Homo sapiens: one gene and its partner. The protein of the gene in region 1 purifies or fractionates together with the protein of each later gene. This does not show direct contact. Each region holds a gene or a part of one and is shown in the gene's direction. Other genes may lie near its edges.

Evidence for each region.
Region 2: the proteins of PENK (region 1) and CDC26 purify together in Homo sapiens (affinity purification with mass spectrometry; 3 studies listed by BioGRID and IntAct, with this or other methods). This does not show direct contact.

What each region holds. Positions count from the first base shown.
Region 1 is NC_000008.11:56,439,782-56,443,641, reverse strand, and holds the end of PENK (proenkephalin-A preproprotein), read left to right. Parts: intron 1-1,704; coding exon 1,705-2,370; 3' UTR 2,371-2,685; downstream 2,686-3,860.
Region 2 is NC_000009.12:113,266,367-113,270,082, reverse strand, and holds the end of CDC26 (anaphase-promoting complex subunit CDC26), read left to right. Parts: intron 1-2,643; coding exon 2,644-2,820; 3' UTR 2,821-3,091; downstream 3,092-3,716. UniProt on the Homo sapiens protein: Component of the anaphase promoting complex/cyclosome (APC/C), a cell cycle-regulated E3 ubiquitin ligase that controls progression through mitosis and the G1 phase of the cell cycle.

The sequences.
Region 1 (3,860 bases):
ATATTTACTGAGCTTCTACCATGAGAAAGACACTTATGATTGGTACTGTGGTGGATGCAGAGATGAGCAGGCGTGCTATGGCTGATGTCCAGATAGAATTTCCCATCTAATGTGATCTTGACCATACCACACAAAGTGTGGTAAATACCACAAAACATGCATACATGGTTATAGGAGCCATCAGTTAACATCGCTACCTTAGTACGAGTGCATTATTCTGATATTTGTTACTATTTGGTTTTGAAGGAATCTCACATCACATACATTTAAAAATCTTTTGGTATTAGTATGCAAAACATTCAACATTAATTTTTAACAACAAGATCACTTAGATACAACTTTAGAATGGAAATATTATTGCTCCTTAAATATCTTAAGCTTCTAATGGTGTTTTTATTTGTTCATCATATGTCAGGAATAAAATAAGACATTTTAATTATTAATGGATCATCTTTAGATTCTTACGTAGTTATATATTTAATCTTCTCAGACACGAAGCTTAAATACTCATTAAGAGCTTACTAAATACGTGCCTTCAAGATTTTGTTGCACTAATAAAATGCTTTCTTTCATTGTGAAAATAATATATGTGTATTTAACATCACTTAATATACCAGTATATTTTTAATAATACCAAGAAAGACTTCAGAGGGCTGTAAAAAACTCCTGAAATGCTAAGAAATATCATGCATGTTTTGTAAATGTTCACATATTAGTACTCTCTTTATCATACCCAAGTGATGTGTTAAATAGAAAAAAACTTAAGATCATTCGAATGTATAGACTTACAATGATTTTATATTTAATATTTATATAAGAAAAAGGAAAGAATGTATGCTGATGATTCCTATTTTACCAAACACCATGATTTCCATTGAAAAATACTTTTTCTGTACAACAGTGACTAAATGTGAAGAAAATAAACATGAATAATTTGTGCACTTGCATTTGTATAATTTTATATCTGATCTCATCATTATAGACATTTTGTTCAAAATAATAAAGTCTGTTGTATCCAGCAAAGAAAAAAGGAAAAAAACAAAAGATCTGTACTTACAACAAATTAACAAATTAATAAGAATGCAAATAATTCATCAGATTTAAATTGAGTTTTTAGGATGTGTTTATAAACTTTTTTTAAATTGTTGTTTTTCTTTGAAGATTGAAAGTATTTGCAGGAATACTCGATACCATTTTAGGTAAAATATTAACACAAGAAAGCAAATGACCCTTAGGTTATTAATATTGATTTTATCTCTAAGACAAGAAGATAAAAGGAATTTTGAGGAAATATCCCTGATTAGGTAAATAAAAATTTCTCCTTTTTGGTTAGAAAAATCTCAAACAAAATTATATCAGAAGTGGAAAATTATCCAGTGAAATTAGATTGTGAAAGCAGTCAATCTAAGTTAAAACTGCATGGAAAATTTTTTTTTAAATTCTTTAAAATTTCTATGGGTTTAAAATCCAAAGGCAGATTCCTAACTGGATTCAGTGAACCCCTCCACTTTCACCTTTCCAAATTTTATTTGTTTCATTTGCATGCTCAGCCTTATGAAAAGTCGTGATAAGAAATTGGAGATGACCTTATTATAATAAGGAAGTTATGATGTCAAAGCAAGCATATTTTGGTCCACAAAAGTTCATTTGCTTAATGAAATCACAGAAGCTTCTTTTTATCATTACATCAAATTGTTTTCCCAGGCTTGCGTAATGGAATGTGAAGGTAAACTGCCTTCTCTGAAAATTTGGGAAACCTGCAAGGAGCTCCTGCAGCTGTCCAAACCAGAGCTTCCTCAAGATGGCACCAGCACCCTCAGAGAAAATAGCAAACCGGAAGAAAGCCATTTGCTAGCCAAAAGGTATGGGGGCTTCATGAAAAGGTATGGAGGCTTCATGAAGAAAATGGATGAGCTTTATCCCATGGAGCCAGAAGAAGAGGCCAATGGAAGTGAGATCCTCGCCAAGCGGTATGGGGGCTTCATGAAGAAGGATGCAGAGGAGGACGACTCGCTGGCCAATTCCTCAGACCTGCTAAAAGAGCTTCTGGAAACAGGGGACAACCGAGAGCGTAGCCACCACCAGGATGGCAGTGATAATGAGGAAGAAGTGAGCAAGAGATATGGGGGCTTCATGAGAGGCTTAAAGAGAAGCCCCCAACTGGAAGATGAAGCCAAAGAGCTGCAGAAGCGATATGGGGGCTTCATGAGAAGAGTAGGTCGCCCAGAGTGGTGGATGGACTACCAGAAACGGTATGGAGGTTTCCTGAAGCGCTTTGCCGAGGCTCTGCCCTCCGACGAAGAAGGCGAAAGTTACTCCAAAGAAGTTCCTGAAATGGAAAAAAGATACGGAGGATTTATGAGATTTTAATATCTTTTCCCACTAGTGGCCCCAGGCCCCAGCAAGCCTCCCTCCATCCTCCAGTGGGAAACTGTTGATGGTGTTTTATTGTCATGTGTTGCTTGCCTTGTATAGTTGACTTCATTGTCTGGATAACTATACAACCTGAAAACTGTCATTTCAGGTTCTGTGCTCTTTTTGGAGTCTTTAAGCTCAGTATTAGTCTATTGCAGCTATCTCGTTTTCATGCTAAAATAGTTTTTGTTATCTTGTCTCTTATTTTTGACAAACATCAATAAATGCTTACTTGTATATAGAGATAATAAACCTATTACCCCAAGTGCATAATATCCTTGTAAGTCTCTTTTTCTCCAAGGCTCTCATTTACCTTTGGGTTTCCGCATCAATCCTAGACTCAGGGACAGTAGAACCATCTGCTTTTGACATAATTTTGACATCATAATCATTGTCTTTCTTCTCCTTCAGCCAAGGCTCAAAAACATTTTTTATTTAATTCCTCACAGCATGAAATCTTAGATTAGTAAACACGTGGGAGCAAAATAAAATGTATTTTCACTCTCATTTCTGGAAATCAGATACATGAAGAAAAACCAAAGCCTAATAAAGGAGCCAGCTATGCCCCCATTAAACACACACACACACACACACACACACATACTTGCATTTACATCAGATGTGTATGTCTCTTTTCTTCAGTAAAGTATTTTAGAAGTTAGTAAGAAATTAAAGATAATTTAGTCCAATTTTACAAATGAAGAAAGGGAAGCCAAGAAAGGTTGTGTAGTTGGCCCAAAGTTGCCCAGCAGTTGAAGGACAAAAATAGGATTAAAACCCCAAACTTTTTGTGCCCAGTCAATATCCTTTTCACTGCGGTTCCTTATCTCCTATCCACGTCACTAGTAAGAATTGTAAGAACGTGGAACTACATCTTAGTCACCATTGTACACCTCTACACTATGACTGTAGCAGATTCTCCAATATCGGATGAATGGATATATGAATGATGAATAAATTAATTTGGTGACCAGATAATGAGGAAAGATATTGTGAGTGTTTTGTAAGGTAAATCCCCAAAACACAAGGTGCTTATGACTACTTCATATTAATGAGACAATGCTCAGATATAAGAAATGTAACTTTTCATTTTTCTTATTATTATTATTATACTTTAAGTTTTAGGGTACATGTGCACAGCATGCAGGTTTGTTACGTATGTAAACATGTGCCATTAACTCGTCATTCTGGTTTCTCTTCAGATCGTGCAAATCTTTCGCCTTTAACTTTTCATTTTTCTAACTGAAACAACATACGGCTTAACCCCTACTCACTAAATCATTTTTCCAGGACCCCCACCAACCCTTTCTCTTGTGTTTCTCAAAACATTGGAATTTAGCAACTCTGGAAAGTGGGGGACGAGTCTCTGGTCTGCAGTCTACCAAGGCTGCTGCCGAGATGCTCACTGTGCAAGCCTGTGTGCCCCATCTGATAAGGCAGCTGCA
Region 2 (3,716 bases), on another chromosome or scaffold:
TAGGCACGGTCACTCTCTGTTGTAATTGTCTGTTTGCTTTTGTTTTCCCTCACTGGGCCATAAGCTCCTTGAAGTCAGGGATTAGTATATTTCTCTCTGCATCTGTTCCCTGCAATACCAGGTCCAAAGGAGGGCTCAATGCAAGTCTATTTTCATTTGCTGTCCTAGTAGGTATCTTGTACTATATGGCAGAGGACAGTACGTTTTGCATATATTCACCAACAGCTTTATTATGTATTGTATATGCTTCATATTAAGACTAATAACTTAGATTTCTTTCCCCCTGCTTCATCCCAAGAGACTTTAGTGTTCTCTAAGTATCGTAATTTTTGCTTTCTAAAAACTCATATATTATTAAGCATGAGCTTTAAAGTATGGCTTAAACTTCAGTTGTAACGAATCTCATAAAATGCTAGCATGCTGAACTTTGACTCTACAGTCAGCTCACTATTGAGTTAGTCTTTCCACTAAAGACAGTTATCTAGTGGGTTTTACCTTGTTTTAGAGTAACTTAGGAAGCAGGGACAGTCATGCCCTAAAGTGAAACCAGTAGAAAACTGGCCTGTTTCATTTATTACCAACATGAGTTTGATTATACTACTGTGACTCTAGCTTCTGAAACAGCAGTTGCTCAAAGTGGGAAGCCTTTTAAGTGATTTCATTCCATTTGGATATTCTCAGAATGATAGAGTTGTTTGCCTTTTCGAACTTGTTTTCACAAAGGTATTTAGGTAGAACTTTCTAACATCACTTACTAGTAATCAGGAAGGTCATTTGCCACATAAAAGGCAATACCTTATTTTATTCCCTGTAATACTTTGTGAGTGTTGGCATTTATTTTTTTTTTTTATTTTTATTGTTGAGACAGGGTCTTGCTCTGTCGCCCTGGCTGGAGTACAGTGGCATGATCACAGCTCACTGCAGCCTTGACCTGCCAGGCTCAGGTGATCCTACCACATCAGGCCCCCTGAATAACTGGGAATACAGGCATGCGCCACCATGCCTGGCTAATTTTTAAATTTTTTTGTGGGCCGGGTGCGGTGGCTCATGCCTGTAAACCCCAGCACCTTGAGAGGCCGAGGCAGGCGGATCACGAGGTCAAGAGATTGAGACCATCCTAGCTAACATGTTGAAACCCTGTCTCTACTAAAAGTGCAAAAATTAGCCAGGTGTGCTGGCATGCGCCTGTAGTCCCAACTACTTGAGAGGCTGAGGCAGGAGAATCGCTTGAACCCAGGAGGCGGAGGTTGCAGTGAGCCAAGATGGCGCCACTACACTCCAGCCTGGCAACAGACAGAGACTCAGTCTAAAGAAAAAAAAAAAATTGTGGAGACAGATGGAGTGTCACTATGTTGCCCAGGCTAGTGTCACACTCCTGGGCTCAAGCAATCCTCCGCCTTGGCCTCCCAAAGCACTGGGATTTACAGGCATGAGCCACTGCGGTCAGCCTGATGCTTGGCATTTAAATGCCCACAGTTCAGCAGCAAGTGGTGAAGAATGGTGGTAATTCCAGTGATTTGAGTAGCTGAGCCATTCTTCTATTAAGTAACTTTGGATAAAACATCATTTCACTCTCTTAGAGAAAGTTATCATCTGTTATCCTTACAGTCAGGTAGTGGCTGTTATGGGATAAGTGTCTGTTTTTGAAAATGATCAAACTAAGACATACTTTCTGGATTCTGCAGTCACATGTGACTTAGGAGCCAAACCTTTTATCTGAAAACAAAATGAAGCCACAAAACCCAGACCTTTTGATAAGATAGCATAAAACCTTCTTGAGTTACTTTTAATCTCATGGGATCAGTCAGGCTATAGATTTTTGGTGGTTATTTCTTTACCCAATTTATTTTTCTATTCTCTAGAATAATAAATTTGTTGAAATGCCCTTTGCTCTCACTTGTCTGCTCTTACAGCTTTCCAATTGTAGCTTCCTGTTGTACCACCACACCCCAACTCCTTACCTCTTGTCTCTTTGGCAGTGTAGACTTCTCTCTGTCATAGGTCATAGCCCTGATCACCCTATAATCGTCTGTTTGCCTGTTTCCCTATTAGACTGTGACATCCTGGAGGGTAGGGGTTACATCTTTTGTTTTTTTTAAGACAGAGTCTCGCTCTGTCGCCAGGCTGGAGTGCAGTGGCACCATCTCAGCTCTCTGCAACCTCCGACTTCCTGGTTCAAGCGATTCTCCTGCCTCAGCCTCCCAAGTAGCTGGGATTACAGGCATGCGCCACCATGCCCAGCTAATTTTTGTATTTTTAGTAGAGATGGAGTTTCACCATGTTGGCTAGGGTGGTCTCGATCTCCTGACCTCGTGATCCGCTCGCCTCAGCCTCCCAAAGGGCTGGGATTACAGATGTGAGCCACCGTGCCCCGCCAAATTTTTGTATTTTTAGTAGAGATAGGGTTTCACCATGTTTGCCAGGCTAGTCTCGAACTCCTGACCTCAAGTGATCAGGGGTTACAACTTTTAACACCATATCCTCATTGTGCCCCTAAGTACTCCAAACCTAGGATTTCAGTTTATTGTTCTTTACACCCTAACTCTATCATTTAGCCCATGCCTAGTACATGGTAGGTGTTCTAAATAAACATTTGCTAATTGAAAGAATGTTGCCTTAATCCTAAAACTTTTATACTTTCAGACCCGTAAGAAACAGAAGGAAGATGTGGAAGTTGTAGGAGGCAGTGATGGAGAAGGAGCCATTGGGCTTAGCAGTGATCCCAAGAGCCGGGAACAAATGATCAATGATCGGATTGGTTATAAACCCCAACCCAAGCCCAATAATCGTTCATCTCAATTTGGAAGTCTTGAATTTTAGAGATGGATTATCTTGCATGCCAGAGCGCTGGAATGGAATAAAATGATGGCAGAAGTACAAACCAGATTTAGAGAATTGAGTGCTTGCAGTCAAGCAGAATGTACCTCCTGCAGAGACAAATCTTCTGCATGAGATTACTGATGCTTCACTTGCACTCTAAGCTGGAATCCAAACTCTGGTTTGTCTCTTGAAAATTTGACTCTATAAAACTGATCTGATTTTCTGTTTTTAAAAATAAATATATTTTTGGAAAAATGTGAGGCATCCTTAATGAAGTATAACAGTACTGTTAATTCCCAGACTTTAAAAGATAATTGCTACAAGATTAACATCATTCTTTCCATCTTTATTAAAAGACCCTAAGCACAGGACACTCTAGTTGATCCCTGCCACTTTCACTTAACCCATCTATTCAATAAGTATTTATTGAGTGTCTACCATGTGCCACTCAACAAAGATCCCTGCCCTTGTAGAAATTAAATTCTAGTGGATATTGTGTAAATCTGAAGAAATTGTAGGTACCCGATCTCTTTACAGAATGGCTTTGTAACTAGTTTGGGTATAATGTTGGGAGGACAGGCAATGGAGGAAAGAGGAATGCTTCTAACAGTTTTGCCATTATTCCAACTTTCCTTCCTTTCTCAACTTGCCTAAGTGTTTTTCCCAGAAAGAACCAGAGAGGCAGCTCGGAGGATAATTTTGAATCATGCCCTATTGTTCTGGGCATTAAAAAAAAATTTTTTTTAAAAATTTTTATTGTTTTATGTAGAGACAGGCATCTGTGTTGCCCAAGCTGGGCTTGAGCTCCTGACATTAAGCAGTCCTCTCAAAGTGCTGGGATTACTGTGCCTGGCCTGTTTTCACTAATTCAACACAGGGAATCACCAGCTGTGATC